6 separate regions of the Homo sapiens genome follow, and all the other regions are linked to region 1. The links come from fine-mapping of genetic effects on plasma protein levels. Region 1 holds a variant in brackets. A gene starts in each other region. All regions are shown on their reverse strands.

Evidence for each region. PIP is the posterior inclusion probability: the model's chance that the variant is causal. The UK Biobank Pharma Proteomics Project read protein levels with antibody pairs (Olink). The fine-mapping took linkage between variants from a reference panel, not from the people measured, so its PIPs are less certain.
Region 2: it holds the start of ERBB3, and the variant in region 1 is fine-mapped to the plasma level of the ERBB3 protein (UK Biobank, PIP above 0.99).
Region 3: it holds the start of GC, and the variant in region 1 is fine-mapped to the plasma level of the GC protein (UK Biobank, PIP above 0.99).
Region 4: CFHR5 starts here. The variant in region 1 is fine-mapped to the plasma level of the CFHR5 protein (UK Biobank, PIP above 0.99).
Region 5: it holds the start of ADGRD1, and the variant in region 1 is fine-mapped to the plasma level of the ADGRD1 protein (UK Biobank, PIP 0.97).
Region 6: TFPI starts here. The variant in region 1 is fine-mapped to the plasma level of the TFPI protein (UK Biobank, PIP above 0.99).

Annotation. Positions count from the first base shown.
Region 1 is chr8:125,485,674-125,489,763 of GRCh38, reverse strand. All of the region lies in intron 2 of TRIB1AL (TRIB1 associated lncRNA), which reads right to left. Among named protein-coding and RNA genes, the nearest start is that of TRIB1AL, 21 kb to the right of the region's middle. The variant G/C (reference allele first, on the strand shown) is at 1,975.
Region 2 is chr12:56,078,213-56,082,302 of GRCh38, reverse strand. ERBB3 (erb-b2 receptor tyrosine kinase 3) reads right to left here and starts at 2,138. Exons shown (of 28, transcript NM_001982.4): 1 at 1,921-2,138. The coding sequence starts at 2,002. RefSeq lists an enhancer at 1,491-2,481.
Region 3 is chr4:71,782,142-71,786,231 of GRCh38, reverse strand. GC (GC vitamin D binding protein) reads left to right here and starts at 2,153. Exons shown (of 13, transcript NM_000583.4): 1 at 2,153-2,271. The coding sequence starts at 2,214.
Region 4 is chr1:196,975,812-196,979,901 of GRCh38, reverse strand. CFHR5 (complement factor H related 5) reads right to left here and starts at 2,346. Exons shown (of 10, transcript NM_030787.4): 1 at 2,180-2,346. The coding sequence starts at 2,237.
Region 5 is chr12:130,951,402-130,955,491 of GRCh38, reverse strand. It overlaps ADGRD1 (adhesion G protein-coupled receptor D1), which reads right to left and starts at 1,585. Exons shown (of 25, transcript NM_198827.5): 1 at 961-1,585; 2 at 832-868. The coding sequence starts at 1,026.
Region 6 is chr2:187,552,165-187,556,254 of GRCh38, reverse strand. It overlaps TFPI (tissue factor pathway inhibitor), which reads left to right and starts at 1,820. Exons shown (of 8, transcript NM_006287.6): 1 at 1,820-2,055.

The sequences.
Region 1 (4,090 bases):
GGCTGTCTGTTTTCTTGGCTCATTGGCTGTTCTCAAAGCAGTGGTTCGCCACTTTGCACATTAGAATCACCTGGGGAGCTTTTTCAAACTAGGGCTGAACCATCCGCAAAGATTGTATTAACTTGCTTTGGGTGGGGTTGAGTCATGGAAGGTTTTTAAAAGCTTCCTAGGAAATTCTAGTGCACAGCCAGAGTTGAGATCATAGGCTCCACGGTTGGGCAGGAATTTATCATTCTCAGCAGGGAGGAGGATGGTGGCCCCAGTGTTGGAAGCATCTGTGAACTCTATACCCCAAGAACTTCCTAGAAATCAAACAAGCTCAAGCCAAAAGGAACCTCCTGTATCACCTGGACCAGATATCCCCAATCCTGGTTATACACTGGCAACACCTGGGTAGCTTATAAAATGCCCCACCCCAGATATTCTGATTAAGTGGTTCTGGGATGGAGTGGGGGCATCAGCATCTCTTATATCCATCCTCTCAGGTTGATTTTTTTTTTTTTTTTCAGACAGGGTCTCACTGTGTTGCCCAAGCTAGAGTACAGTGGTGCATCATGGCTCACTGCAGGCTTGGCCTCCTGGGCTCAAGCCATCTTCCCACCTCAGCCTCCCAATTAGCTGGGGCTACAGGCGAGTACCACCATGCCTGGCTAATTTTTGTATTTTTTGCAGAGACAAGGTTTCGCCATGTTACCCAGGCTGATCTCAAACTCCTACACTCAAGTGATCCACCCACCTCAGCCTCCCAAAGTGCTGGGATTACAGGTGTGAGCCACCGCACCTGGCCCAGGTTGATTCTAACGTGTATCCAGTTTGGGAACTACTGATATAGTCCCAGACTCTCAGTTTACAGATGAAGAAAATGAGGCTCAGAGAGGAGCAGTGACTTGCCCAAAGTCACACATCATGCTTGCTCCAGAGGCAGGGCTAGAGCCCAAACTCCTGACCAGGGCTATTTCCATGCTGTAACCCCTATGGTTTGCAAAATTATTTCACATATATTACCTCGTTGGCCTATATCTTGCCAGACTGCATTGCTTCCTGCCACCATCCTCTCATTTCGCAGAAGATGAGATGGGGCTCAAAGAAGTGACCTGCCCAAAGCCACACAGTGGCAGGATCCAGAAAAGAACTCAGGTCTCCTGACTGCAGATCATGGGTATGGCCTCACCCAACAATGCCCATGGCCAGTCATCTGCCTGCCAAGTTCCAGCATGTGAGGTTTTCCTGAGCCTCAACACCAGCAGCTGAAGGTTTGGACACCTCCAGAGGCCAGGCTTCCTGAGCCTCAACACCAGCAGCTGAAGGTTTGGACACCTCCAGAGGCCAGGCTGTGCAGAAATCTCACAGCGGACAGTTGCCTGGTGCCCTGGAAGTTCTACTCACCGATAACCCCTTACCCACCGTTCTGAGCATACTGAGATTTCCTGTTTACAACAGGTTTGCATCTGTTATCTCCAATGGTGTGTTAATGACAATCCCCATTTTACCAAAGGGCAGACGGAAGCTCAGAGAGCTTTGAGGACATTGTCTCAGGACCAAAGCTAGCCTAGAACCAGAATCAGGTCTTTGGACTCTAAGGCCAGCCCCTGGGGCCTGGGGGGCCTGGGACCTGCCTGCTTTGTGAAAGTTTTCCCACCCTGCCTGAACAGATGGCCAGAAGAGCTTAAACCAGAGATTGGGGCAGGGTGGTGTGTATGTGTGTGCCCCAGTTTGACCAGCTCTGGTTTCTGGTTACCTGCTGCCAAAAAACAAATATTTCCCAAAGTGGTAGGTGCAGGAAACAGACCTCACTTCTTTAAAGCCCAAAGTAGGCAAGCCATTTCTACCTTCCTCCCTTTTTCTCACCTAACCATTTGAGGATAACAGTGATTAAATGCCTGCTTTCTGGCCAGGCACAGTGGCTCACGCCTGTAATCCCAAGTTTGGGAGGTCGAGGCAGAAGGATCATTTGAGGATAGGAGTTTGAGACCA[G/C]CCTGGGCAATACAGTGAGATCCCCATCTCTACAAAAATAAAAATAAAAAATAAGTCCGGGTGCCATGGCTCGTGCCTATAATCCTAGCACTTTGGGAGGCCGAGGTGGGCAGATCACTTGAGGTCAGGAGTTCAAGACCAGCCCAGCCAATACGATGCAACCCCGTCTCTACTAAAAATACAAAAAAAATTAGCTAGGTGTGGTGGCGCATGCCTGTAATCCCAGCTACTCAGGAGGCTGAGGCAGGAGAATCGCTTGAACCCGGGAGGCAGCAGTTGTAGTGAGCCAAAATCACACCACTGCACTCCAGCCTGGGCAACAGAGTGAGACTCTGTCTCAGAAATAAATAAATAATAAAAGCTACTTTCTCCTTGTCTACACCCCCTGATAGTCGCTAGACATAGGGAGCTGGGCCTTGAGGAAGGGCCCAGGATGACCTGTCATTTATTTTACTTACGAAGCACTGATACAACTCGCTGCTCCAAGTGCTCTGAAACATTCATTAACTCATTTCAATTTTCACAACAGCCCTATGGGAGAGGGGAGGGCACTGCTCCTCTCCCCACTCTAGAGATTAGGAAATAAAATACAGACAGGTTAAGTGACTTGCTCAATGTTACACAACTAGAAAGAGGCAAAGCCGGGATTTGAACCTAGGCAGTCTGGCTCCAGAATCCACGTTCTTGACCACTGTGGTTTACTGGGCAGCATTTGCCTGAGTGTCTGGTGCTACACCAGTCTCACCAGGGAGACTCCTAAACACACTGCAAAGTGACACCTCATGCTCGACTGGCTCTTAAATCCAGATGAAAGAGTGTAAAACACTAACCATTTTCTGGGGTTGTCACGGTGTGTGCAAGTCCACATGGACGCCCATTTCAGGACCTCGCCACCACCTTCCACCTTCCTTCTTGCATTCACTGCTGTGATTAGAGTCTGCACGCCACCTGCATCCACTCTGGCAGTTGGTATTGTAATCCCCCATTGTACAGGTGAAAACACTGGGGCTTGCGGAGGGCGTAAGTGACCACAAAGCTAATAAGTGGCAGAGCTTGGAAGTCAATCCCCTGCTTCTGCTCATTACATCATTTGCATCTTTCCAAGACCCCTCAGGAGGGATTCTGCAGGAATTGTGGCCGCTATTCTGGGAAACGGAAGGTGCGAGTCACGTGATCAGTGTGAGAGTCCAGGCCTCTTAACTTCTGAGCGGATTCTCTTCCGCCTCCTGCTTCCACCATTTGTCCATGTCCATTGCTACCATTCCAACACCTCGGTTCCTGGAATGGAGGGACACATTTGACTGCTGAAACCTGCTCAGTGTAGACTCTAGCATCTCCAAAAAGCCGGGTAAACTCTCAACCCAAAGGAGAGAAGCCAAGTCTTGCTCAGCAGCTATTTTAGGGCCTGAGAGCTCCCCCTGCCCCTCTCGGGATGTGGGGATGTCGGGATGTCGGGATGTCCGCAGAGCCAGTTTTACCCTCCCGTGGGTGCGTGGTGGGACCAGTCACCGAGGGAGGCAGCGCCCGGGTGCAGGTGGGCCGTGTTCTGATGGAGCTGGTGGATGGCAATGCCAGCCAGAGAACTCGGTAATGACGGGAGCCAGCATGGGCGAGCACTCACTAGATGCCAGGCGTCGCTGTATGTGCCTCAAGCCCCGCAACCACCTGGGCTGTGGGCTCTAAGGGGCCCTCAGAGCTTCGCTGCCCTCGGAAGTGATGGGATCTGAGGAACACCTATCACCTAGATTGACAGGGCACTGGGCCATGGCCTTAGGGTCTGCTGGGGTCCAACCATAGCCCTGAGATCCTGGGTCCTGCCCTCTGTACCCTTGCCCAATCTCCATTTTGCAATCCATCAGCCTGACCCAGTAAACATCTCTAGCCCGAAGAGAACCCATCTTCCTGACCCTTTTCTATGTGTTTCGAAAAAGAGCCCAGGGGTGTGGGGGAGGGAGGGGGCCTCAGGCATCTGATGGGAGGCTGGGAGAAAGCCACTGAGCTCTGGTAGGCTGCCTGAGTGCCAGCCACTTTACCCAAGCTTCCTTACCAGTACCAAAGGAAGGAAACAGAATCCCTGGAGGGGAAACTAGAAAGCGGTCTTGTCCATGGCTTATCT
Region 2 (4,090 bases), not on the chromosome of region 1:
ACTTCTCCCCAGATAAGGGAGGAGCCAAGCTTTCTGCACAGGGAAGTAGTAGTGTGGGCACACACATACACACACAATGTACACACGAACACGTACACATTGGTCCTGCTGGCTCAGGAATCTATAGTTGGGTTTCCTTGCAGGAAGTATTTCAGGTGGCCCCATCTATCCCACGTGCCCATAAGTGTTTGTGCAGACTTTGTGTCTGTGCTTGGAAGGCTACAGTGTTAGAGGTAGCCCAGTTCCCTGCTACCCTGAGGGTAAAGTCCATATTACACAAACAGGGGGCAAAGGGCCTGGGCAGGAAGGGAGCACAAACAACACCTCTGGGGAGGAGCTAGGCAGCTTGGGGAGCAGGGCAGGGGAAGGGAATCATAAAAATCCCTGCTGTACCCAGGAACCGGGAGCATAGGGAGGGGCAGTGTCACAGGCCCTCCTTTGGTAGAGAGCACTAGGGGTGGGATAGAGCCAGAATCTCCAGCCCCTCCTCAACCAGAGGCCTCCCCTCCAACATCCCCCACCCCCATCACAGCCAGGACAAAGGGGCTATAGAAGGACTGAGACAGGGCCGGATGCCCAGAGGCTGCAGGACCCAGATAAAGGGTAAAGAGACCCAACCATGCCTGCCTCCTGCCTCCCCAGGGAGGGTGGCCAGACTCTGGTACTCCTGGGTTTCTGGGTGAAGATTGCAGGAGTCTGGATGGGACAGTTATACAGTCACTCCACTGCTCCCTCCCACGCCAGTCCCCAGACCACCCCCCTCCACCAGCTGGGAGTGTTCACATCTAAAAATCCCAGGATCTAAATTTAGGCCCAGCAACTGTGAGGGAAGCACAGGTGGTTTCTTCCACTCCCACACTGGGGAAGGGGCCCTGGCTGTGCCAAACCCCAAGCTGAGATCTGAGGGGAGGGGAGGAGATCCACAGAACTTCAGTCCTCAGGTGTCCACGGTCCCAGAGACACCCCAAAGGGGTGGGCTCAGATAGCATGGGAGTCGGGGGAGGACTGGAGAAGAGCAATCCGGGGCTCTGTCTAGGGTCCTAGAGACAGTGTCAGACAATAAGCAAAATGGGGGCGGGAGGCACAAGCTGAGCCCAGGAAGGACTCCCCAAGGCAGGAGGCTTAGAAAGTAGCAGAGGTGCCCTCTTGATCCTCAGGTTGGGGAGAGAAAAGACCAGAGGCTGGACATCCTTGCCCTTACAGCTCCTGGCCCAGGGCCTTGTGTATAGTAGATGCTCAATAAATATGAGTTGTGTTGACCTGGGTCTTGACAAAGAGATGTTGCTTAAGCTCTGCTATACTGAGGAAAGGGGGCGCCAGCCTCTGTTGGGCCTCCTGCCTGATGTCACCTGAACTTGGCCCTCTGGTTAATCTCAGACCTCCCCAGGGCAGGCTCACTCACGGAAGAGGAGGTGCCGCTCCTGTTTTTCCAACACCAGAGAACAACAACCCCCTCCAACCTTCTGTAGCTCCGCCCTGTCGGCAAAACAACGAAACTAGGGGTAGCTGAAATCGGCGCGGGTGGGGGGCAGGGGGTTGGCGAGCAAACCGAGACCCTTCCCGCCAAGGCCCCCACCTCCAAGCACCTCCTGTTTACAGAATGAAGTTCCCTGCTCCCCTCCCTGCAGGGCCCCTCAGAAGTGTGAACTACTGTTTCGGCCTCAGCCTCTTCTGGGGAGACCAATTAGAGGGTCGGCGACGCTCTGGAGAAGGGTGGCGTGAGGGTCCCGGAATGCCGCCCTCGGCCGGACCACGCCGATAACCCGAGCCTGACCGCCCCTCTCCCAGGTGGTCCTGGCAAACCGGGGGCAGCACCCACAACCCCGCGCCGCCTGAGACCGTGCCCATACCCTCCGAGGCTGCGCGCACTGGGTTCCGGCTCCCAGGTGCCGAGCCCGCCGGTGCTCTCGCGCCACTTACCTGCCTGAGAGTTGCCCACCTCGGAGCCCCGGGCCAGGCTGAAAAGCAAGCCCAGCACCTGCAGAGCGTCGTTCGCCCTCATGACTCCGCAGAGGGTGAAGGGAGCCCAGCCAAGTCCGGCCCGGGGGCCCCTAGGCTAGGACATCGAGGCAAGAGCCACCTGAACCGCTGGCGAATTGGTGGCTGCTGCGGCGACGGCAGCGGAGGTTGCAAATTGCAATCGGAGCCGGAGCCGGAGTCCGGGGAGGGATGGCAGGGGAGGGGTGTGTGTGTGTGAGAGAGAGAGAGAGAGGGAGGGAGGAACGCAGAGGGAAGGGGGTGAGTCACGGCCGCGCCCCCTCCCGCGCGAGGCTGGAGTAGGGATTGCGGAGCCTCGGACCGCCTGCCCCGAGCGTGCCACGCCCCGCGGTCCCGCAACTTGGCGGAGCAGATCGAGGATGGGGCTCACCCTAATTTTTCTGCAGGAGATAGGCCAAGGGGAGGTCGAGATTCCGAAAGCCCCCAGATCCAGGGAAGGGTAATGAATGAGGGAGTGGAAAGCTCTCCAAAGCCCTGCCCCCTGAAAGTTGGCCTCGCCCATTAACCAAATCACTCAACTCCCCTAGCCGGTTGGTTCACTTGGTGGATTTTCTCTCAGAATGTGAATATTTCTCTCTGTGTGTTTTTGAGGGGGAGGGTGTTTTTTGCCTCACGTCCAGGCCACCTCAGTTTCTCCCAGACTCGAAACCCCATAATTCATCCACCCAGCCCAGGAACCCGAGCCACAGAGACCGCGTGAAATTGCACTGTCTCTGGCCGCTTCCTCCTCCAGACCCGGCGCCGGCCGGGCCTCTCCCGGGGATTTGGATGGGGGGCGGGGGTGGTTTCCAGCCTGGGAACAGACCCCGGAGCCCGCCTTTCCACTTCTACCCCGGGAGGGGCTCCCGCACCTGTCGCCGTCCCCTCTGCTGCCCCCCACGGCCGCCTGGGAGAACAGCTGCCTCCCCTTCCACACTGGAGTCTGGCCGCACCGTCCGGGCGGCCGCAGTTCCCGCCGCTCTTCTGGGGACCCAGATGGGCACACACCAAGGCGCTTACACCCTCCCAGGTGCCTTCCAAGTCCAGGCTCTCGCAGGAAAGGGGATGGGGCAGTGAAGTGGGACGCGGAGAGGACACTAGAGACTGCGTCCACGAATGGCGTGGACCTCTGGAACCTCCCCCACCAGCTGCCCGGACCTGGCCAGAGGCGGTCGGGCTCCCTGCGGGTTGCTGCCCAAAGCCCTGCTAGTCCCGGGACGGATCCGACCGGCGCCGCCTGGTGCCCATCCGTGGCAGTGGAGTCCCAGACGGCCTTGCATTTCAAATCCCTTAAACTGGTATTCGGGATCTCGCCCGGAGAGCCTAGTTGTTTTCTCCAGAACTTCAAGCCTGAAGACTTCGAAAACAGTTGAGCCTTGATAAAGAAAAATTTCACCCCTCACACCTAGCAAAGACTACCGGCTAACATTCCTTAAACATGCTCCCTATTGATATGCAACCTAGAGGGCCTGTTCTCTACTGGAGAATCTCCGCTTTGGGGAGGTTGGCTTTCTCCAGACCATGTGTATAGTAGTCATAATAATAATAGCAACAACAAAACCATTAACATATACAAACATTTCCATATATCATTTCATTTACAAAGTATGTCCTCAAACTTAGTGCCTTAGAGAATGTGTCACTTAACATAAAAATTATATGATTTAGGCAATATAACTCCCCATTTTACAGAACTAGAAGTGTGTGACCTCTCCAAGGTCATCCACCTGGTGACAGTGGTTGAGGTGATCAGGTGATTGGGAGGTGGGGCTCAGACTTTTACCTAGGGTTTCTTTCTCTCTTTTTTTTTCTTTTCTTTTTTTTTTTTTTTGAGACAGAGTTTCGCTCTTGTTGCCCAAGCTGGAATGATCCACCTGCTTCAGCCTGCCAAAGTGCTGGGATATCTTCCATCTTAAAAAACAAAACATTCGGCTGGGCGCGGTGGCTCATGCCTGTAATCCCAGCACTTTGGGAGGCCGAGGCGGGCAGATCACTTGAGGTCAGGAGTTCGAGACCAGCCTAGTCAACATAGTGAAACACCGTCTCTACTAAAAATACAAAAATTAGCTGGGCATGATGGTGGGCACCTGTAATCCCAGCTACTTAGGAGACT
Region 3 (4,090 bases), not on the chromosome of region 1:
AGCTACTAGCCTGTTTTGCCGAATTTCAGTTAGAAAATTCAGCCAAGAGAATGCATTTGGCAGCTCGTATAGAGATTTCTCAAGAGGGCATCTAAATGAGATGTTGCAATTCTTGCTACATGTAGTTTATCATTAAACAAACGTGGTAAATATTATTGCAAAAGCAGAGATAAAGTTTAATTTTTTAAAAAATGAAAGAATGAGCTGGTCTTAAACTCTGTATCAAAATTCGTAGAAAATAATCTGAGTGTGTCTTTTTGAATGAACTAATCAGAAGATGACGAAATACAGTTGAATAAAAGGGATACAGAAGTATAAATACAGTGTATTATCTTAAAGAAAAATGAAAACTGTATCAATATGCTAATGTGTTACCTACCTCTTTTGAGTTCCGGGGTTCTGAGTAGTTTTTAAACTTTTTCACACTCATTTGGAGTATCATTTCCAAATAATTTGCCATAGAACTAAAATACATTTTTAAATTAACTTGCACAGTAAACTAGGAATTCAGCCAAAGGGAACTGAAAATTTAGATTTATAGTAATCAGGAAGTTGATCCTTGAACAAGATAGAGTTGGCTCTTGGACAGGAAAGCTATCTCCTTGACCATATGGATTTCCACTGGCCTTACAGAAATACTTGTGCTTTGATCTGGCATAGGTATCTTTTTCCAACTAGCTGGACTCTATTTTCTGAACCTAACACCCAAGGATTTTCAGTATAGATAGAAAATCTGACTAAACATGTAACTACCTAAATTGGTTTACTGAAATTTTGATAGACTCTGCCCATGTAGATAATCCTTGGCTACTGAGTTGATAATGAAGTTTTAAATCACTTATCTGCGGGACCCTGGACACAGGGCTGTCTTTAAACTCTTCCACTGAGTTCCAATGGCCTCATTAGTTTCATTGACCTTCACAGATATTATAAATTTGGAAAGCCAGTGGGAGAACGTGGCAATAACTAGAATAAGAGTAATAGGTGACATTAATCCATGTTACTATGTGATGGATGTTACCATGAGCCCTGCACCCAGATTACCTTAATTAACCTCATAGCAATGTTGTGTCAAATGTACTGAGTTATCACCACATTGCATATGAGGAAAATGAAACTTAGAGGGGTAAAATAAATTTCCCAAGGTTACACAGCTATGAAAGCTGAGTAGGGATTTGATTTTAGAGCATGTGTAACAACCTGTACCTGACCATTTCCTGAAAATAGGGCTACTGCAAAAACCAGGAGTGGAACTCATCTAATTCCAATGAATGATCTACCTATGACTCTCTAGACAAGTCACAGAATTTACCCAGTGCTCAGTTCACTCTTCTGTAAAATGAAGATGTTGGATTTCATGTCCTACAGGGCCTCTCTGAGCTCTCAAATTACATGCCCATAAAATATACTAGTTGTAAACTATTAGTAGAAGGAGCTTTAAAATCACTGTAGGGAGTCCAAGATTTGCCACTAACTTTTTATGATTGGCAGTGGTGAGCCATTTAACCTCTCCAGTTATTTGCCTCACTTCAAAGGTTATTTTTCATATATATGTCAGTGCTTCACAAAGTGCAATACAGCATAGAAATACAAAGTACTATGCCATCATCTAAAATAAGATTACTTCATAGCATCAGAATTATGGATTTAAAATATTATGTTGAATTGGCTTCTCACTCTTTTTCCCCTTTTACTTAGAACATCTGGTCTGCAATATTTTAAGGTAATGCTTATTTGTAGTAGATTTAAACAAAGAGAGGAAGAGAGGTAAAGACAGAGTTTCCGATTTTCCACTTACATATGAGAAAGGTGGGGTGTCCAAAGAAGACACACAGCCCTATACAGGGGGAGAAGGTGTGCGTTACTAACATATTAAGTAAACTTTAGTGAGGAACAGCAGTGGAAAATAATCTATATACCTTGGCTCTTTTGCAGTTTGACAAAGTTAATGATTAAAATCTCCTAGATTTTCCACTACAGTATCCCCAGGGTGTCTATTTACCTTGATTGATATTATTTTATCTCTTTTGGGCCAAAGATAACAGCCCCTTGCTTCTGTGTTTAATAATAATTCTGTGTTGCTTCTGAGATTAATAATTGATTAATTCATAGTCAGGAATCTTTGTAAAAAGGAAACCAATTACTTTTGGCTACCACTTTTACATGGTCACCTACAGGAGAGAGGAGGTGCTGCAAGACTCTCTGGTAGAAAAATGAAGAGGGTCCTGGTACTACTGCTTGCTGTGGCATTTGGACATGCTTTAGAGAGAGGTAAGATTTCTTTTGTTGTGACCATTTACAGGAATTCTTACTAGTTTAATTTTATATTATCACTTAAAAAATGAAATAAAAAGTAAGAAACAGAAGAACTGGTGAATATGTTGGGGAGAGGGATAAGGACCAGAGAGGCATTAATCAGAGCTCCACGATGCCATGTAATGTTGAATTGGAATTGACAAAAAAAATCAACACAAGAATCTTGTTAAAGAAAGTAAATGGAATGATATAATTTGTCAATTATCTCTTCCTCCTTTGTTGATAAGCAAGACCTAGAGAGAATAATTTAAAATTAGACATTTGCTAATTGTTACAAGATAATGCAAATAAAGACTGTGATCCACCATTAAGCATTTATTCAGACTTCAAATATTTATTACCATTGAGTGTAATATACCATGCCAATGATGCATGATGTCAACTTAGAGATTTCTTTGATCCCCTTAGAGGAATCTTATACATGCAGTATTTGAAAATGCATTGTATTTTTAAAAATATCCCTCACATAAAATTTTTCTATAGCTATGAAACATAACCACAAATAAGATAATTCAGTTATATTTTTCATTGAAATTATTCTTCAGATGGTGTGTTCATCTTTGGGCAATGTTTAAAAATTTTTTTACATGATAAAGACTGAGATTATGGGAAGTATACAACTTTATGAATTCTACAGCTGGGAAACTTTTCATCATTAGCTTCAATTTACTTTTCTGGCTGATTCTTTAATGTTCACAAGGGACATCTGCATTTATCCTGCTTTGTAAAATTAAGGTTTTCATTTAGTGCTGTCAGTTAACAGCCTCACCTAATTCGTACATTATTATTCATAATAGTAATGTGTTTTGCCAGTGGAATAAAATGTGTGTTCCCAAGAATTATCAGTTATTAACTGTAACATGAATAACCTTACTCTTGACTTTTTATTCTTCTTCTTACATTTACTTTTCCTTGGTCTTATTTCATCATTCAAATTATTTTAACTCGTCTTACCCATCAATTCTTAAGTAAGCTATGCGTCCTTAGGTAAGACTACAAAGTCTTTCCCAGACAGCATAGGGTATAAAAAAGCAACATAAATTGTGTCCCTTATAAGACCTCTGAATAGGCCATGTTCCAAGAAATCCCTTTAAGTCTTATTCTTTTGGCCAAGGATTTGCTGGGGCAGATCTGATCCTGAAAAATCCTACTGAAGCAGGTTCAGATCAGGGTCTTCAAACACAGAAGGTCCAATAATGGCTAGGAATTGGAATTATATATGGAGGCCATAAGCAGGAGCATGAATCACCATCTTAGACTGCTGACTCAATAGGTGCACATTGGCTTCACCTCAAAGAATGAAAGTGTCCTTTGGAGAATAACAGAGCATTCTGCAATCTATATTTCAACATTCTCAGCAGTCCTCAGATTCTGATGAAATGGATGCTAAAAACCTCCAGTCAGTCCCCTAGAAGATCTAAACTTCATTCTTATAACCCATGTGCCATATGCCAGATGATATCTTGAGACATACATAATACACTTGTAAGCATTAACTTTCAATATTTGGGGAGAGTAGTCCTGATCTATCAATTCTCTATTCTCTAATACCTGAGCATGACCCAAAGACCAAGTCAGCAGTTTACTTAGAAGCTAGCTGTGTTCTTCCTGGCAGGAAGTTACAAAGTGTACAGATTAAGGGAGTTCTGAGAACTCTTAGGTTCTGAGTAGCCTTGTATTGTGGGGGATTGGTTTGAATTGCAGTTTTCTCTGCCTGTTATAGTTCTAGAGAGCTGACCACCCACAGCATTTATTTAAGCACCTGTTTCAAAAT
Region 4 (4,090 bases), not on the chromosome of region 1:
AGTTGATAAAGTAGAAAGCTTATCATAAATTAATTTATTATTGAAGAAAAGTTTTAAAAATAAATTTAGTCTATCCTGGGTGCACCAGAAGCTCAGTAATTAGCACTAAAGAACTTATCCATGTAACCAAAAACCACCTGCTCCCCCCAAAATATTGAAATAAATATATAAATAAAATAAATTTACCTAGCTCAAGTATTCAGTGTTCATGAAGTTTACAGTAGTGTATGGTAATGTGCTAAGCCTTCATATTTGCACACCACTCACTCAGTGACTTACCCAGAACAACTTTCAGTCCTGCAAACCCTATTGACGGTAAGAGCCCTATACAAGTCTGCCATTCTTAATATTTTATATTGTATTTTTATTGTACCTTTTATATGTTTAGGTAAACACATTCTTACATTTGTGCTACAGTTGCCCACAGTATTCAGTACAGTAACATGCTGTACAGGTTTGCAGTCTAGGAGTGACAGGCCGTATAGCTTAGTTAGGTAGTAGGCTATACAATCTAGGTTTGTGTAAGTACACTCTATGATGTTTGCAGGAGGACGAAATTGCCTATAGACACACTTCTCAGAACGTTTTCCTATCATTAAGTGATGTATGAGTGTACACACACACACACACACACACACACACACAGACAATTACCTATATATAAAACCTTGCAATTTATTTGCCTATTTACATTTTGCTTTTCTTTTAGGACACTCTAAGTAGTAGTGAGGGGTGGGTGGCGTTGTCATATTCTTTCCAGCTTCTTTGCTACAGCATGAAGCACAATATATTGCTTGATTCATGTTTTGCTACTGGAAGCATGCAGTTTTCTATTTGTACAAAAGTGTTGCTTTCGTCTGTTATTTCTGCTGTTTGGCCAGTTTCTAAATAGACACCAAAACAAAAGTGTAATGCACACTTACAGGTCATTTAACACCTAGACAACTTTTAATAGAATTTCACTAAAGTTTATCCTGGGACTGGACTGAAGCTTGAAAGTTTTGTGGGGTTAGGAATTGTCAAAATTCTACATATTATCCTCATAATTTTCACTTATCTTCCTCTGCTTCCACCCCCCTTTAGAAATCCTTGTGTAATGCCATTTGTAACAGATGTTTAAGCCACTTAATAAATATCATAAACACAGACTTAAGAAAAATCAAATACACTCATGCAATCGCACTCTTGTGATTATAGCTCAGTACTAAAAGTGAAAACAAAATAAAATGAATTTTAGGCCCATAGAAATAATGTTTTGCAACATTTGTAAGGGCATATCTTAAAAAGAAAGCATTTTATGGTTCATATTTTTCTCTTATGTCAGGACTGAGAAGAAAGTGTTCAAAAAATTTAAAGATCTGTAAACATTAGAAAGCAGTAAAGCAGTAAAATAAAAACTTTCTGGAAATCAAAGAGTATATAGCACAATGATTGAAACTTCACGTACACACATAGTTTAATCAGTATCCTAGACCTTGTTAGAGATTTTGTTTGCAATCCTTTTGATATAGTGGCTTTAATTTCCACATGAAATAAAATGGGATAGTTTATAATGTTATAAGAATCAGTTTATAGTATTAATAAAGAAGTGATATATTATTTCACTTTTGAAATTTGTGGAAGAGCTCAGAAGAAACAATTTTTTGGCAGTTCACTGGTTTATATATAAAAATAATATTTTCTATTGTTTCATTAAAATATATTTCCCTGTTGAATGATAATTAGGCTGAAATGAGAATTCCTTCATTTTAATAACATTTAAAATGTAAATTATCAAATCTATGAAAATAAAATTCTCAAAACATAATGAAGGTGGCCAAATCTTTTGGGGTTGATTTTTCTAGTCAGTGGCATTGCAGAGTTTATGCAGAATTACACTAATATTTCACCTTGTCATCTTTATTATAGCAGATTTTCTCTCCTTTGATTTCTCTTTACATTATCTATTTGGTGACCATTTACCCTTAGCAAACTAGAGAACGGAGAGAATTAATTTCATTCAATTTTCCTGCTAATTGCATGTTGGAAAATATTTCCAGAAAATAGATGAATATTGTGATACCCCTTCAAATTATCCTCAGCTATTTATTCATTTAAAAATATTTGTATGCATACACACACACAATCAATAAATACATTTGAAAAGGAACTAAAATATTCGGATCTGTTTTCAACTTACCTTCTCCCCCAACAGTGGATACCCATGAGATTAGGATTACACTGAATAAGAGCAACATGCTTGGTAGTCTCAATCGTATATAACTAAAAATACTCCAGTGATGGTGGTGTTGCTTTAAATCTGCTTTCATTAACAGTTACAAGCATGACTTTGAATTTCAATGTACTAAGGGGAAGCTAGTTTAGTAAAGCCCTTTGTGGAAAACATCAAAGTTCATGGAGGGTTGTGTGAAATAAGCAAATAGTATCTAATCAGTGTCTTCACAATAATATTCTCAGCTCGTTATGTAATATTTATTTAAGCAAAATAACTGCTGTTCAATTTCCTTGTTGTAGTCACCGAGTCTCTGAGTTTGGAACAATCAGAAATGGACTGTTTAGAGGAGAGAGGAAGCTCCCCACCGCCGGCCCCCTGGGTTTTTTTTTTTTTTCTAGCCAAGGGTTCAGCTGTTTCAAAAGGCAAGCAAGTGCAAGTCATCAGTCCTCATCTTAATACAACAATATCACTTTTGTAGTTGTAAATTCCCTTTTAAAACTGGCACTAAGAATTAGGTACCTTCTTAACAGTTTTAATATTTCATAAACTATAAAAGGTCTAATCAAGAATTATTTTTGCTGGCCGGGCGCAATGGCTCAAGCCTGTAATCCCAGCACTTTGGGAGGCCGAGGCGGGTGGATCACAAGGTCAGGAGATCGAGACCATCCTGGCTAACACGGTGAAACCCGTCTCTACTGAAAAATACAAAAAAAATTTAGCCAGGCGTGGTGGCGGGCGCCTGTAGTCCCAGCTACTCGGGAGGCTGAGGCAGGAGAATGGCGTAAAACCGGGAGGCAGAGCTTGCCGTGAGTGGAGATCGCGCCACTGCACTCCAGCCTGGGCGACAGAGCGAGACTCTGTCTCAAAAAAAAAAAAAAAAAAAAAAAGAATAATTTTTGCCAAGTAACGTTTCCTGAAATGTTTGAAGAACAGAATTATAATTCAAAATCATTTTGTTCAGGTGGGACTTCGAGAATGGCTATGTGAGGGTCTTGGTATATTCACTCCCAACCAAAAGGCAGCAATAAAACTGGATAAAAATTTAAAAGTAACCATTGGTTGTCTCTGGAAATTGGCCAAACAGCATAATGTTGGGAAATATTTTTTCCAGAAAGTCTCCATAAAATTCAGTAAAAGAGAGCGGATGCTTTCATCCACCTCTGTCTCGCAGCCCAATTCCGTGGCTCAGAAGTTGAACCCTGGATGGGCAGGCAGGCTATGTGGACTGGAAGCTCTGCTCCCCTGCTGGAGAAGAGTGACTTTATAGCTTGGAAAGGTCCATGCCCGAGGATCCTATTGAATACAAAGAGATTACAGTGGGAAACAATCAGAGAAGACTAGAGGATACTAGCTGAAGCAAGCAACAAAGTGCCCAGCCTGAGAGAAATTTAACATTTAATGGGGAAATTTACAGAAACAGCCTAATGATCTCACTAAGAGGAAACTTACTTATGGTGGTTCAGAAGTCAATGGGAATGCACATAGCTATGTCCAATCAAGAAACCAGAGAAGTCCCTGTGAGCTATTAGTAGTCTCCACTATTGATTCTAGTCTATCTAAACCTTGTCATTTCCAATTACTACACTACCTAAAGTATCTAAATATTAAGCATCACACTCTAGACCATTTCAACAATCTTTTTAGCTCACTTACTCTACTAAATTTGTTCCAAACATTCAATGACCCTGACACTTTTTCACTATTCTCTTCCCTTCATTTTCTCTCTTCCCACCACATCTAAATTAGATTCCATGGCTCATCACTGTCAGTCAGTCCCTTGCACACACTCTCCTGCCCATTCGTTCCTTTCTATCTGTAATCCAAGTCTTAGAAAACCTCAATCCTTTGCAAATAAATTCTCTACCTGCCCTGTGC
Region 5 (4,090 bases), not on the chromosome of region 1:
CTCCCTGTCTTCCCGAGAGAAGCCCCGTCCTGATGCTTCCTGGTTGGGTGTCACAATGGCCAATGGAATGTGGCTCTGGGGCTGGAGCAAGGGTGGCCCTCTATCCCGAGTCCCACTCATCGGCTGCTCCAGGCTAAGCTGGTCAGCACTCTGAGGCTGGAGGTCCCGAGACCCTGCTATGGGCCAGAGCTCCAACTCCCCACCAGTGAATCTGCCCTGAAGACATGAGATGGGTGTGGTGGCTCACATCTGTAATCCCAGCACTCTGGGAGGCCAAGGCGGGCGGATCACCTGAAATCAGGAGTTCGAGACCAGCCTGGCCAACATAGTGAAACCCTGTCTCTACTAAAAATACAAAAAAAAAAAAAGCTGGGTGTAGTGGTGCACACCTGTGATCCCAGCTACTCAGGTGGCTGAGGCAGGAGAATTGCTTGAACCCGGGAGGCAGAGGTTGCGGCCACTGCACTCCAGCCTGGGCAACAGAGCAAGACTCCATCTCAAAAAGAAAAAAAGGAAGAAAGGAAGAAAGAGAGAAAGAGAGAAAGAAAGAGGCAGAAGGCATTCAAATGAAGATCATATTTCCTTAATCACAATGTTTCATATGACCCAGCTCAAGGGGCCCAGAACCACTTCTCCATCCACCGCTCAGCCGGTGAGGGGTAGCAGAGCTGCCCAGGGTCACAGTGTGTGGTGAGGCAGTGAGGTCGGGGACCAGGAGCCCAACAAGGGCCATTCGCTGATGCCTCAGAGATGAACAAGTGGGCTGTTCCTGAGATACCTGCACTAGGCAGGGGGAGAGCGGTGCTCAGAGTGAGAAGGAAACACTCTTACCTGGATGGTCCTGCGATCTGGAGTAGACGCCACGCACCTGCGCACAAAAGACCACAGTGTGAGACACACTCAGGGAAAGCCTCCGGAGAAACCAAGCCTGTCGCCATCCTGGCCACTTGGGGACATTACCTGAAAGTTGTAATAAAATAGCAGCAGCCAGGAGTACCAGCAGCACAGCCGCAGCAGCTTTTCCATGGCTCTCTCGGAGGTCAAAGCTCGGAGCCAAGTGAAATTCCTGAGGGTCTGTGAGAACGGGACCTCTTAACCTTCACTTCCTTGGAAAAGGGACATTTTCACAGGTTCCAGGGGAGAAAATTTCTGTCTCCTTAAAGTTTGTGAAACACAGCTGTCTTGGAGACCTAATGGGTGTTTCTTCCTCGTCTCAAAACTTGAGATTCTTCAGTGATCAATAAACACGTTGCGATGACCAGAGCAGCTGTGGAATGCAGGGAGGAGAAACCCAAACCCGACTCGCAGTCCTGGGAAAGCAATCCCAGGTCACCACTGTGACCGCGACCTGCGCCCGGGGACGGGAGGCTGTTTGTCCTGCGGTATTTTCTTTTTATTTCAAGAGCCTCCGTTTGTCTCAGTCAGGTTTGGAGCTTCCCTTTTCTCTGAAGAAGGTTTTGTGCGTGGTTTTCCCCTGGAGCGCCCGCCTGCTCCTCGGGCTTGTCCTGCGGCCGCTCTCGAGCTCCTTCTGGTCTGGCTCAAGTTCACACCTCCGTCCTGCTCTCTGGGTGGAGGGGGAGTGAGTGATGTAAGTCTCTCTCCTCAAACTTTGTTCTGTTCTCCTTTTCTATTTATATCCCCACTGCTGTGTCCTTCCTGGGTCCTAACTCCAGCCTCTTAACAACAGCTGAAATATTTCCAGGATCTCAGGCTCAGAATCAAACCAAACAGACATGGTGTGTGGTGTGTGTGCGTGTGCGTGTGTGTGTTACTGATGCCTTCTGGTCAGCACCTTCAAAGTCGGCATAAATATTAATAAATACAAAATGCAAAACAAACCATAAACTCTGTTTAGATCTGAGTCTTGTTTGCCCCCAAAAGAGAATGAAGTTGACAGAGGGATGGAAAAGAGAAAGCAGCACACCCACTGTGCCCTCCATATTAAGCGCTGACCACATTTTTCTCTCTAATCCTTTCGGACGTCAGTGAAAGCTACGGAATTAATTACAAGGTACGCTGCGCAATTACACCATCCCACATATACCCCCACCCCAGCACCAGGAGGATGTTCTCAATGGGATAGAAAAGAGTCAGCCCCTTCGCCAGACATGCCTCAGTTTACCCAAGACCAAAGTTTATCCGATCTACTCCAAATACACGTGGACACACAGAGACACACACCCTAGAATTGCAGTCACAGCTATATTTGCTATGTGATTTAAGTAATATTTACCGCTTCATACTTTCTCCAACATTCACCAGCTGTGCTCCTAGGCAAATTACTTGATCTCTCTTAGTTTTCGAATTCCTCATCCACAAAATGGGGGTTAATAGTTCCTCCTCCTCAGGGCTGTAACAATAAATTAGAGGACAGATCCAAGGCTCTTCAGGCAGTACTTGGAAAATATGTGGCACTCAGTAAATGCTGCTATTTTCTATTAAGAAAAATTATCACTCAGTAAATGTTAGCTATGATTATTATTAGCAAGTATAACATAACACCCAGTAAATGTTAGCTGATACAGTTATCTCAATTGTCCTGACTTTAAATGGGAATTAAGAATCCTGAATCCAACATACTTCCTAAAGAGGATAAGAAAATGACTTCCAATCTCTGTGGGACAGAAAAAAAGAAAGTGCTGTCAAAACGTTAGGTGATTATTTTTAACTTGTGCCTGCAGCCTACAACCGCTCAGATCCTCTGATAGCCTGAGCCTCTCTGTGGAGCTGGAGAAGGGTTCCAGAGAGTTCCATCTCCTAGCAATGGAGAAACTGTGAACTCCAAAGGCCGGGGGCTGTCTGTAATAACGACCTTTATCCTGTTGCTCAGGCTGGTCGGCTTCAGGGAAAACTAATTTACAACCTTTATCTCTGCCATTTCATCAGCTCTCCAGTCCCCCACTGCCTCTCGCTGGAAGAGGTGAAGGGAGGGACAGGCAGCTGCAGGTTTTTCTCAGCTCCAGTTTTAACCTGGAAGAATTCAACAGATTGCTGAATATGCGGACCTTTCCCATCTCCATGACCGAACAAAGCCAGCATGGTTTCTTTTCATCATAAAATTGTCATCAGATAATGGGAGACACCCCGATTCAATGACTGTAATAAAAACTAGATAGCAAAGCAATTCAGCAGAGCTTGCCCTGCAGGCATCTGCACTCATCCTCAGACTCACTCTGACTCTCCATCCCGGACTACAGTCTCGTGCCTCATGCTATTTGCCTGCGTCCTGTCTCAGGCCTTGTTCAGAGGCCCAGATGAAGAGCCCGCCTCCATGTAAAGCAGCGTGTCCTGAAGCCTGGAGATTTGAGACAGGGCCTTGAGTGGTCCATGGGCCTGGAACCAAGCAACTCTGATGTCTCTGAGCATCTCATTCCATCACCCAAACGTCGGGGTGTTCGGCACCCAAACATCACCTTGACAGCAGGTCTCCCTCCCCCTAAAGCCCTCCCCTGCTGTATTTTCTCGATCCCACTAACCACGATCCAATGTACTTCATATCTTAGACGTTTATTTCATTTATTGTCAGTCTCTCCCCACCGAGGCGTAGGCCCCATGAGAGCAGAGACCTTCTTTCTGCCTGTTCGCTCTGCACCCCAGCCCCGAGAACAGGGCTTGGTACTTGGTGAGCACTCAGCGTTTGTCACCAAACCCAGCCTGGCTCTGCCCTCCCGCAGCAAAGCCAAACATGGACGTCGGGATTGCAGTGAGAGGAAGTGAGGCATTTAGAGCAGGGCACCAGGCGAGCAGAACCTGGCAGCTCACACTTCAGACCTGAACTCCCCGATGGCTGATGGGGGAGGGTTTTTCAAGGTGGAGAGGCAGAGGTTACAGGCTAAGTCCCACATGAATAATACCTGGAGGCTGCACATTGGTTTGACCTAAAAAGCTAGGACATCTTGAACTGGGGGCCCACAGGTCATATAGGTAGTAGATTCAGAGGTTTTCTGATTTGTGATTGGTTAAGAAGGCAAGGCTTTGTCAAAAAATTTGAGATCAGCAAAAAAGAATGTTAGCTCTGGCCTGTGGGCATGACCTCCTCCAGGCCCCTCAGGAAGAAATTTAGAACAAAGAACAGTGGTGGGCCCGGAGG
Region 6 (4,090 bases), not on the chromosome of region 1:
GGTTGTAGCGAGCTGAGATCACGCCACTGCACTCCAGTCTGGGCGCCATTGAGCACTGAGTGAACCAGACTCCGTCTGCAATCCCGGCACCTCAGGAGGCCGAGGCTGGTGGATCACTCGCGGTTAGGAGCTGGAGACCAGCCCGGCCAACACAGCGAATCCCCGTCTCCACCAAAAAAATACGAAAACCAGTCAGGCGTGGCGGCGCGCCTGCAATTGCAGGCACTCAGCAGGCTGAGGCAGGAGAATCAGGCAGGGAGGTTGCAGTGAGCTGAGATGGCAGCAGTACAGTCTAGCTTCTGCTCGGCATCAGAGGGAGACTGTGGAAAGAGAGGGAGAGGGAGACCGTGAGAGGGAGAGGGAGAGGGAGACGGAGAGGGAGAGGGAGAGGGAGAGGGAGAGGGAGGAGAGGCGAAACTTTCAAGAAAGAAAATCTGATTGGCTGAGCTTGCCTCTACCTGAGCTACAGATTCCTCAAAAGTTTAATCAAGGTCCATGGTGGTACCAAGAAAAAAGGACTTTCCTCTACAATCTGAGTGAGATGATAGCTTTGATTGTGGTTGAGGGGCAGGGCATGAGGTAATAGGAGATAAGTTATTAACATGATATGAAATCCAGAACATGAGTGAGAAGGCAGCATGGAGGAGGATTTATGCATTTTTGCTCTAAAGGCAGACTGCATGACATTAGAATCACAGCTCCACATACTGAACTCGATCTTCCTAGACATGTGAAATGGGCATACAAAGAGGACCTTCTTTATAAGCTAGTTGTGAGAATTAAATCGATAATTTATGTTCCAGTCACCACCAAATAATTATTCAATATGTATTAAAAACACTCAAGATGAAAGGTTACCTTTTACAGAGAGGTCTAAGGAAAGCAAGAAAAATTGAAGGCACAAAGAATCTGAGATGCAGAAGCAAGAAACTCCTACATTTTCTGACCAAATGTCTTCAGCCTTCCTGGCAAAGTAGATTCTGCCCATTTATTAGATCTCTAGTGATCTTAGTCTGATATGACCATAATTCCAATACAGAGACAGTACGGATGAACCTCAATGATAGGGACATACAGCAGAGACTCTGGTTGACATCTGTAAATATTTACATATTTTGTAGAATAATAATAATAGAAATACAGAAAACAGCGATAATGATAGCCAACAATTATTGGAGGTTTGCTACATGCTGGGTCCTGCCTTAAGTACTTTTTATGTATTAAGCCATTTAGTACTTACATCAAGCCCAGAAACTTTTATTATCGACATTTTAGGAACAAAGGAACTGAGGCATAGTGAATTCAAATAACTGGGCTGAGTAGCCAAGTTAGCAAGTAGCTAAGGTAGGGCTCAAAGCCTGACACCTGCAATAGATAATGCATTACATTGTCTCACTAAGAGAGACCTCCAACGGTAGCCCTCAGACTTTTAAAAAAAATAAATACATTGACAGTGGGTGAAACAAATGAAATAACTTGAAGAAGAAACAAACTGCAAAAAAGCTTATTAACAGTGTAATAATAAATATGTAATTTTTTAAACCCTAACTCTAGGGGGAAAAAAGCATTCTTTTTCAACTGATTACAAAAACAATCCTGGAAAGTAAAGGAAATAGCTATTCAAAATGATCGTATCTGAAATCTTGGTGTAAGCTGTTTCCTTCATCTGTTTCCTCCACTAAAAAAAAGAAAGAAAGAAAGAAAAAAGAGGTTTAGACTAAATAGAGTCAGAGTTGCAGTGACCTAAACAGGAAGTTGGGCTATTCCCAACTGCCAGTGATCTCTGAAGCCGACTCTGAGGCTCCCTCTTTGCTCTAACAGACAGCAGCGACTTTAGGCTGGATAATAGTCAAATTCTTACCTCGCTCTTTCACTGCTAGTAAGATCAGATTGCGTTTCTTTCAGTTACTCTTCAATCGCCAGTTTCTTGATCTGCTTCTAAAAGAAGAAGTAGAGAAGATAAATCCTGTCTTCAATACCTGGAAGGAAAAACAAAATAACCTCAACTCCGTTTTGAAAAAAACATTCCAAGAACTTTCATCAGAGATTTTACTTGTGAGTACCTGGCAATATACTGTCTAGCCCATAAGAAATAACTTTAATTTCTTTTTCTCGGGGGAAAAGCAGGGTGCTGAGAGGCAAAGAACTGATAGGGGAGGATCACTGTTTATTTGCGTAAAATGAAAATCAGCCCTTCCCTGTAAACAGAGTAAACTCAAACTGCAATCCAAACTTGAGTTCTCAGCATTTTGCATTTAGTTCTTAAGCAAATTTATGTGCAATTTTTATGATTTTAAACCATAAACATTTTTGTAACTAATTGGTGTATGTAGCTTTTTTATAATTTGAAGATTGTAGTAGAATTCTTTACTAATTGTGCTTGGTTAATTGGAAGTTCTTGAAAGTTCGGTTTACCTTTCCATTTTATTTCATAACATATAAAATAGAGACTGTTATTCTTCTATTCAAATAATCTTTCAATACTATTAGTTGATGATATTTAAAATGAGGTATAACCATTAAAATAATCGTAATCTAAATGGAATATTTTATGCCAGCATTAACTAATCTCTCTAAGGAAATATTTTACAATTCTCCAAAGACCAAAGGTCATATTCTGAGATACTTAAACGAGAATACTTACGATCAAGTCTATGTTGTGCAATTTTGTAAATTAAAACAATAGATAACATGCCTACATGATGTACTGTTATGTTCCTGTTATAAAATGTTTGCTTCTAGTGAAAAATGAAAGCATATAATACAGCAGTAAACAACCACAGAAATATAATGAGAGAAACAATTATTTAATTATGAAAAAGCACTCATTAGTATAAAATAATTACCAAAAATAAGGGCCAAGAGTACTACCATGTGGGAAAAAAGAAAAGATAAGCAACAGCCACACTGTGACTCAGTGCTCTGGAAATTAGTCACAAAATGACTTTGTATAACATGAGATAATATAAACACAAAGGGCAAAACTCAAGCAGGAAACATACTGCCCAGAGAGTCATATTTCATGTGTAAAAGCATAATATTTACATGAAAGGGGGAAAGTTGTGACAATTTTGAGAGATACTGCAAAACTTTTGAATAAAATGTGTTAGGGAGGCAAAATCTCCCTAACACATTTTAAAGATTATTTTAAATCTATCATTCTAGTGCATGATTATTTCAATATACAGTGTCCATATCTCATCTAATCCTTAAACTAAAGAGGGATAGTCCCTGAAATTTGGCTGAGTTTGAAATGTTAATTTGTGGCCTACAGCTTAATAAAATTATATGAAATATAATTAGGGATCAACAAAGATTGAAAAATATTAATGTAAATACAGATAACTAATCAAGTAATTTTAAAATAAGAGTAAAACTTTAAAATATTTATTTTTACTGATTTGAGTAGTTATATTGGAAAACCAAGTTTTTCTACTTCAAGTGACCACAGAATCTTGTTGGAAAAGTTTAATGACATATACTACTATTTGATTCCTATCTCTATTAGGTATACTGAATTGGACAAGTTTTTGTTTTGTTTTGTTTCTTTGTTTTTAAGGTACAGTCTGATATCTTTTGTTTTACCACCAATGACTAAATCAAAACTCCTTTGGAAATGTGGTTCCTGTCCAAATGGATTATGTTATCAACTGGTGTTTGATGGTCTGACTGATTGTCCATTTATCAGTCAGATAATCATTTAAGGAAATGATTATCATTTGCTTGTTGATTGTACAACTATTTTGACTTAAATCTTCTGTCATAAAACTTATTGTTAAATTAATAATACATAAAATGATAACATATTTTGTAATAAACTCTAATTTTCAAAACAGCTTAATTATCTTAAAAATTAATTTTCTAATCTTTAGAAATCTTTTGTTTACATCTTTCAAATTCAAGAGGTAAGTGGGCAGGATGGCAAACTAATGGAGAAAAAATGCCAACTTTAGAGACTTAATTTAATGCCAGAGTGCCTATCCATCTAACCAAATAGTAAATATGCTATCAATTCCTTAGGAATGGTTGGCTGATTAAATTCAGTGTCACAAAATTTTAAGGTATCTTTCAACTGATATCTCTACCTAAT